2 linked regions of the Homo sapiens genome follow. The protein of the gene in region 1 purifies or fractionates together with the protein of each later gene. This does not show direct contact. Each region holds a gene or a part of one and is shown on either strand. Other genes may lie near its edges.

The links.
Region 2: the proteins of FSCN3 (region 1) and GLMN purify together in Homo sapiens (affinity purification with mass spectrometry; 2 studies listed by BioGRID and IntAct, with this or other methods). This does not show direct contact.

Annotation. Positions count from the first base shown.
Region 1 is NC_000007.14:127,599,621-127,602,906, forward strand, and holds the end of FSCN3 (fascin-3), read left to right. Parts: intron 1-573; coding exon 574-779; intron 780-2,002; 3' UTR 2,003-2,524; downstream 2,525-3,286. UniProt on the Homo sapiens protein: Acts as an actin bundling protein.
Region 2 is NC_000001.11:92,246,663-92,250,493, reverse strand, and holds part of GLMN (glomulin), read left to right. Parts: intron 1-2,504; coding exon 2,505-2,616; intron 2,617-3,349; coding exon 3,350-3,432; intron 3,433-3,831.

The sequences.
Region 1 (3,286 bases):
AGGGCCTGCCACTCAGGGCTTGCTCATTATAAAAGGAAAAACAGGCCAGGCGCAGTGGCTCATGCCTGTAATCCCAGCACTTTGGGAGGCTGAGGCGGGCAGATCACGAGGTCAGGAGATGGAGACCATCCTGGCTAACACGGTGAAACCCCGTCTCTACTAAAAATACAAAAAATTAGCCGGGCGTGGTGGCGGGTGCCTGTAGTCTCAGCTACTTGGGAGGCTGAGGCAGGAGAATGGCGTGAACCCAGGAGGCGGAGCTTGCAGTGAGCCAAGATCACGCCACAGCACTCCAGCCTGGGCGACACACCGAGACTCCGTTTCCAAAAAAAAAAAAAAGGAAAAACAGGACCTCTGTTGTTTTCACACTTCAAAGCCCCAGGGTGGGTTGGCAGAACAGAAAACAGTGGAATCCCTATTGGCGCTCCTGCATTTCCATAGAAGGACCCGCCAATGCAGGCAGGATGGGGCAGCTAGGGGAGGGTGGCATGCCTCCACAGAGTCCCTCCAAGGCCAGATCGCTGGAGGACTCCCCTGTGAATGGCCCACCAACCTGAGCTCTTCCTTCTCCAGCACAGGGGGGATCCTTCTGGTCAATAACATCCTTTGGCACCTTTCGCCCTTGGGGCAAGTTTGCCCTCAACTTCTGTATCGAGCTTCAGGGGAGCAACTTACTCACTGTACTGGCCCCCAATGGCTTCTACATGCGAGCCGACCAAAGTGGCACCCTGTTGGCAGACAGTGAAGACATTACCAGAGAGTGTATCTGGGAATTTTAGGTAAGGGAGAGGAACAGGTAAGGGGCTAGGGGAGCAGAAGCCATGGGGCAAGAGGAGAAGGGAGGTGGGTGGGGAGGCATGTGATGGGAAGACCAAAATGCACTCCCAGGCTGACTTCTGTCCCATAATTTGATCAACTCCAGACATTTATTCCTAATCTGTGCCATTTCTTTAGAGCTTACAAACCTGGGCTTGCTAGAAAGGGGAGACAGTTTCCCACTGCTATGCCACACTGACAGGTGGGCTTGGAAGCACGCTTGGAGGGGACAGGGTGAGGTGTTCTTGTACATTTCTATCTCCATTAAGATGCAGAATTTCACTCTATTTTTAGGGAAAACGGATGACTTTGATCATGTGTGTAGGTGAAAAAAAAGATGTGCTTTCTATCCTTTGCACCTTCTATCCCTACCTCTTGGACCCCTGGGTCTCTTGAATATTTTCCTCAGCCCCAACCCTTCTCCTGACCTCTAATGTCATGTCTCTCCAACCTCCTGATAGACAGTTGACTTGACTTCGTCCTGCCAGTTCCTAAAAATCAACATAGCTGATATCAGCCTGCTCATCTTCCCTTCCTAAGGTGATCCTGTTTTCCTGCCTTCCCCAGGGCCATCTTGGGCATTCCCTCCTCCCAAATGCTCAGGCTCAAGAGCTCAGCATGATCTCTCCACCCTTTCTTTCACTTCCTTCATCAAACCCTGCAAATACTTGGCTACTTCTTTAACAATGCCTCTTGTGTGCTTGCTCCTTCTTAATTACCATTGCCACCACTTGGCTCCAGGCTTTTCTCCAGAAGCACTGCTTCTAGGGCTCCCCGAAAGCATTTCCTGCTGCCAGATCTGTCCATCCAATCTCATCTCCGACATCCAATCTCATCTCCACAGTTTGCTTTTATAACGTGGCGCTTCCCTTCCATCATTCCCTGTTCACACTCTTCAGGGCACCTTGTTGCTCTTTGTCCTGTCCCTTCCTAATGGACCTCACTTTCCTGACTTATTGTGCAAAGTGCTTTGTTTTTTACATCACACAGACCTGGAATCAAGAGCTATTAAGCTTCTTCCTTTAAGTTAACTTCACATGTGTCTAGGGTGGATCCCTCATCAAGAATAGGATAAATCACTATATTCTTTTTCTCCCACAGGATCTGACCCAGTATTCTAAAAGCCAGAGATCAGCAAATGACTGACTTGATTGCTGACCATTTATATTTCCTCTTTCCTCTCCAGGTCAATGGGATGTCACCTACCAAAATCCAAATCCTCCAGGAAAAACTACTACACTAAATGGACCAGGAACCTCAGAGTCAAGATCCAAGAGAAGAACATCTGTTACAACTTTTCCTACCCAGTTTAGCAAAACACCTGTTTTATGCAACAATACATCACAACAGGCCACCCCCAAGATCCTTGTGTGCATCTGACTCAATATAGAATAGGGGTCTGGATGAGGGTTGAAACAGACACCCCAGGCTGCTCTAAGTTCTATACAGGAGAGACCAAATGGCAAGCAGTTCTTCCACTGATCTTCCCCGTCCCCATCCAGAACTGCTAGACTTTTTCCAGTGAACCCATGAGCAGCCAGCATTGCCCTGAAGGGTTTAGAATCCAGTTATGACTTTAAATATCTTTTTGGTTTAGAAAAAAGGAAAGATTGTTAATCTCGTGAGCACAGGATAATGGTAATAACACCTTATGCCTGTATAGGCCACTTTACCTCCTCCTACCACGATTTATTTAACTTCCCCACCCATCATTACCTTTTTTCCAGTGAAGTGGGTACTTCCTCCACCACTTCTTACCTTTTTTTTTTTTTTTTTTTTTGACAGAGTCTTGCTCAGTCACCCAGGCTGAAGTGCAGTGGCAGTGGTGTGATCTTGGCCCACTGCAACCTCCGCCTCCCGGGTTCAAGCAATTCTCCTGCCTCAGTCTCCCAAGTAGCTGGGATTACAGGCGCCCGCCACCACCCCAGCTACTTTTTTTTTTTTTGTATTTTTAGTAGAGACGGGGTTTCATCATGTTGGCCAGCCTGGTCTCGAACTCCTGAACTCAGGTGATCCACCCGCCTCGGCCTCCCAAAGTGCTGGGATTACAGGTGTGAGCCACCGTGACCGGCAGACTTCTTACCTTTCACAGACAGCAAAAGTGATTTGCCCAAGATCTCATGACTAATCACAACACAGCTAGGCTTCTGACTCAAATCCAACTCTAATGTCCACCATTCTTTCAGTCAAAGCAGGATTTCCAAAATGTCTGTCATTCTTACACTGTTTTTGTGATTTTGGCCTTTATCTACCTACCATCTGCCCTATTAATGTTTTTATTGACATAGACTCTTAAATACATTTATTTAGAAAGGAATATTTTTTCACTATCATAAAATGGAAAACCAGTATCACTTACCATAAGTGGAAAATGACTATAAAAATAAATACAGGTATACCTCAGAGATATTGTGGGTTCAGTTCCAGACCACTGTGATAAAGCAAATATGGCAATAAAATAAGTCACACA
Region 2 (3,831 bases), on another chromosome or scaffold:
GTAAATGCTGCATTATTTTGAAATACTAAAAACTTAGGATAAATTCCATATAATGGAATGCTTATGCACCAATTAAAATTAGAGCTACAACACAAATAACTCTCAAAAACATAAGATTGACAAAGAAAAAGGAAGCTGAAGCAGGTTATATACAGTATACCATTTATGTGCTTTTAAACATGAAAAATTATATTGTTTAAGTGATACATTAGGAATGCAAAACATTCAAGTTTTAGATAATGGCTACCTCTTGAATAAAGGGGATTTCAGCCATATCTAGTATTTATTTTTTAAAAGTAAATATGATAAAATGTTTCCTTTTGTCAAAGGTTTCCTTTTGTCAAAGCTAGGTGTTTTCCCTATACTCTTTATGTTCAAATGTGCTTTAGTGGGTAACAGAGAGTCATCAGTAACCTAGTCTTGAAAGCCATCAGTTGCAGTGGGTTCTGCCTATAAACCCAGAGGTGAATGCAAAGTAAAAAGAAAAAAAAAAAGTTGGGGGGCAGGGAATAAATGGTGAAGAAAAGGCTGGACGTAAAAAGGAATAAAAGCCTGTTATTTGCAGCAACGTGGATGGACCTACATGTCATTACATTGAAATATGCCAGGCCCAGAAAGACAGTATCACATATTCTCACATGTGTGAGCTAACAAACTTGATCTCGTGGATACAGAATATAGAATGATTGATTGATACCAGAGTGTGAGCATGGGAGGAGGAAATGTAGAGCAACTGGTGAATGGGTACAAAAAGAGTTAGATAAAAGACAAGCTGTATTGCTTGATAGCACATTACAGTGACTATAATTAGCAACAATATATTGTATATTTCAATGTAGCTAGGAGAGAGGACAGGAAATGTTACCAACCCATAGAAATGATGAATACTCAAGAGGATGGATACCCCAAATACTCTGACATTATTATACATTTTATACGTGTAACAAATACATGTACCCATAAATATGTAAAATATCATGTATCAGTAAAAGAAAAAGGCTGGATAGAGAGAGGTAAAAATAGGAGAAATGAGAGCAGTCAGTGCACATAAGAGTAATATGCTTGTTATACTGTGTGGCTACACTGGTTAAGGAAATTCCTGCTGCATATAACCCAAATTTGCCATTAGAGGTTAAGAAAACTTTCCACTTAACAATTTAAAAATTATACAACTAAAACATCCATTATTTAAAAATCAACATAAAGAAGCAAAAAAAAAAAAAAAAGAATAGTAATCAAAATTACACCGTTGTTGATATACTGTATTCCCTTCTAGGTTTTGGGTTAATACGTCTGTACATTTTTTCTTTTTTAAAAAGAAAATGAGATCATACTAAAAGAATCACACTGTTTTATAACCTTTTTTCCCATTCACCAATATGTACTGAAAAACAGTATTTTAATGGCTGTATAGTTTTTCCATTATGTTAATATGTCATAATTTACTATGAATCTCCTGTTGAGTTATTTTAATTCTAATGTTTCACTAAACATTTTTAAAAAACATCTGCAGTAGAATCATAACATACATCTTTATTTCCCCAAGATAAGTTGATAGATGCTAAGTGAAAAGGTATGCATATTTTTGAGGGTTTTAGATCCTCTCTAGTATTCTACTTTTCCTATTAGTATAGGATAAATAAGACAAGATGACTGAAATGAAAAGGATAGGTGTGAGACATTAATATTATCAATTATTCAGCATAGACATGTGTAGATTTTATTTGGAATGCTGCAAGTAACATGTACTACTTGGGTCAAAATAAGCTCATTACAAAATAGGTTATCAAGTAGTTCATTATTCTAGTTAAGAATAAATTGGGTCCCTACGTTTCCCTTTTTGACCTAAGACATTTTCCTTTGTAAAGAGTACTTGGAAACTGGAAGTACCAATGGATTTTCTTTTCTCTATTTTTTAAAATAAAGACTTCATGAGTCCTCTCCATTAGTACTGTAAGAGAAAATGCTCTTGGAATAAACTCTAAGATACATGACAAAATAAGCTGCCCTCAACAGATAAAATCTTCACCTACTTTGGTCACCAGGGAGGTTCAAATTAGCCGGGTATTAGAAAAGTTTCCATCAGTAGGAAAGGGAAAGCATCCTCTAGAACTAGATCCGTGGTGTGGATATCAATTGAAAGGCCATACTTGGGATGAAGGCATAAATAAGGTAGAGTCATTGTGGAGATGGCTCATAGAGGAAGAGACGTCTGTGAATTTATCCTCAAATAATTTTCTCATAAATAAAACTTAACAAGTTAATAGATCTCAAAACCTGGAGCTATCCAAATGGTGCAGTGATAAGCGTAGTGCCCCAAGTACATTTTTCTTTTAATTGGTATTCACATAACTAGCTATAGTAATAATTATTAAATAGTGAAGTCCATTGTGAAAAGCAAGGGCCATGTTTCATTTATTTTTGTTTTTTGAGCTTTTATCGCGTTTAATAGTAGGCAATCAATCATTGTTGAACTAAATAACTCATTCTTTCATTCTTAACAGACTGGATTATGGACAGAACTTGGAAATATTGAGAATAATTTCTTAAAGCCACTTCATATAGGACTTAATATGTCAAAAGCACATTATGAAGCAGAAATTAAAAATAGCCAAGGTTGGTAATGTGCAATTTTGTTTTCAATTAGGTCTAAAAAGTAGTCTAATTTTGGAACTGTCATATTCAAATTTAAGAACTTTTTAAAAATCTTGTACTTTAGAGACCATAACAGCTAAGCCATTTTATTTATAGTTAAAATTCTTAGCAGATCTATAAGCTAATTTACCTAAAATCGGGTTAATGAAGACTTAAACCAAATATTACATTGTAAAGCCTCAAGGTCTGATTAAGAATCTGTATTACAGCTATTTCCGTTTGGGTACCATTCCTTTGGTATTGCTGGGTCCACTCTCCATCTCACTCTCAAGTAAATCCATACAAATTATGAAAAGAATCTTAGATCCAGAATTTTTTTAAGTCAATAATTCTATAATAATCGTGTGATCTCTTCCGTATATCTGTGGTGGTGCTTTTATAGGCATTACCGGAAATTTTGTTTTTAGTATAATGGCTATAATTCTGATTATATACTGAAGAAAACAGTTTCATGAATCCTATACATGCCAAAATAATGCTATTTATCTAAAGAAGCATTAATTTACATGTTGCAGAATTTTGATATTTCATTCTGTTTGCTTATAGCTTAAGTATACCCTGAGCTGTTAAACAATGGACTTAATAATTTATACAAATAACTGACATGTTTTAAGTTAGTGAATGAAAGTAGCTTATACCTTTGTTATTGAAATCTGAGAGTTAAGTGTCACACATGATTTTTCTTCTCTTACAGAGGCCCAGAAATCTAAAGATCTTTGTTCTATAACTGTAAGTGGAGAAGAGATCCCTAATATGCCTCCTGAAATGCAGCTTAAGGTGATCTGAAATTTTCTTTTCTTTCCTTTTTCTTCTTTAGAAACGGGGTCTTGCTATCTTGCCCAAGCTGGAGTGCAGTGGCATGATTGTGGCTCACTGCAGCTTCAACTCCCTGGGCTCAAGTGATCCACCCACCTCAGATTCCTGATTAGCCAGGACTGCAGGTGCACACCACCATGCCTGGCTAATTTTTAGTAGAGATAGGGTCTCACTATGTTGCTCAGGCTGGTCTCCAACTCCTGGCCTCTAGTAATCCTCTCAGCTCAGCCTCCCAAAGCACAGGAATTACAGGTGCAAACCACTGTACCTGGTCTTAAATATTCCTAAGCTACCTCCAGCTGAAATCTTTTCTGTGTTTTGCTTTGTTTTGCTTTAAAGGCAGCATTAATAACATTACTT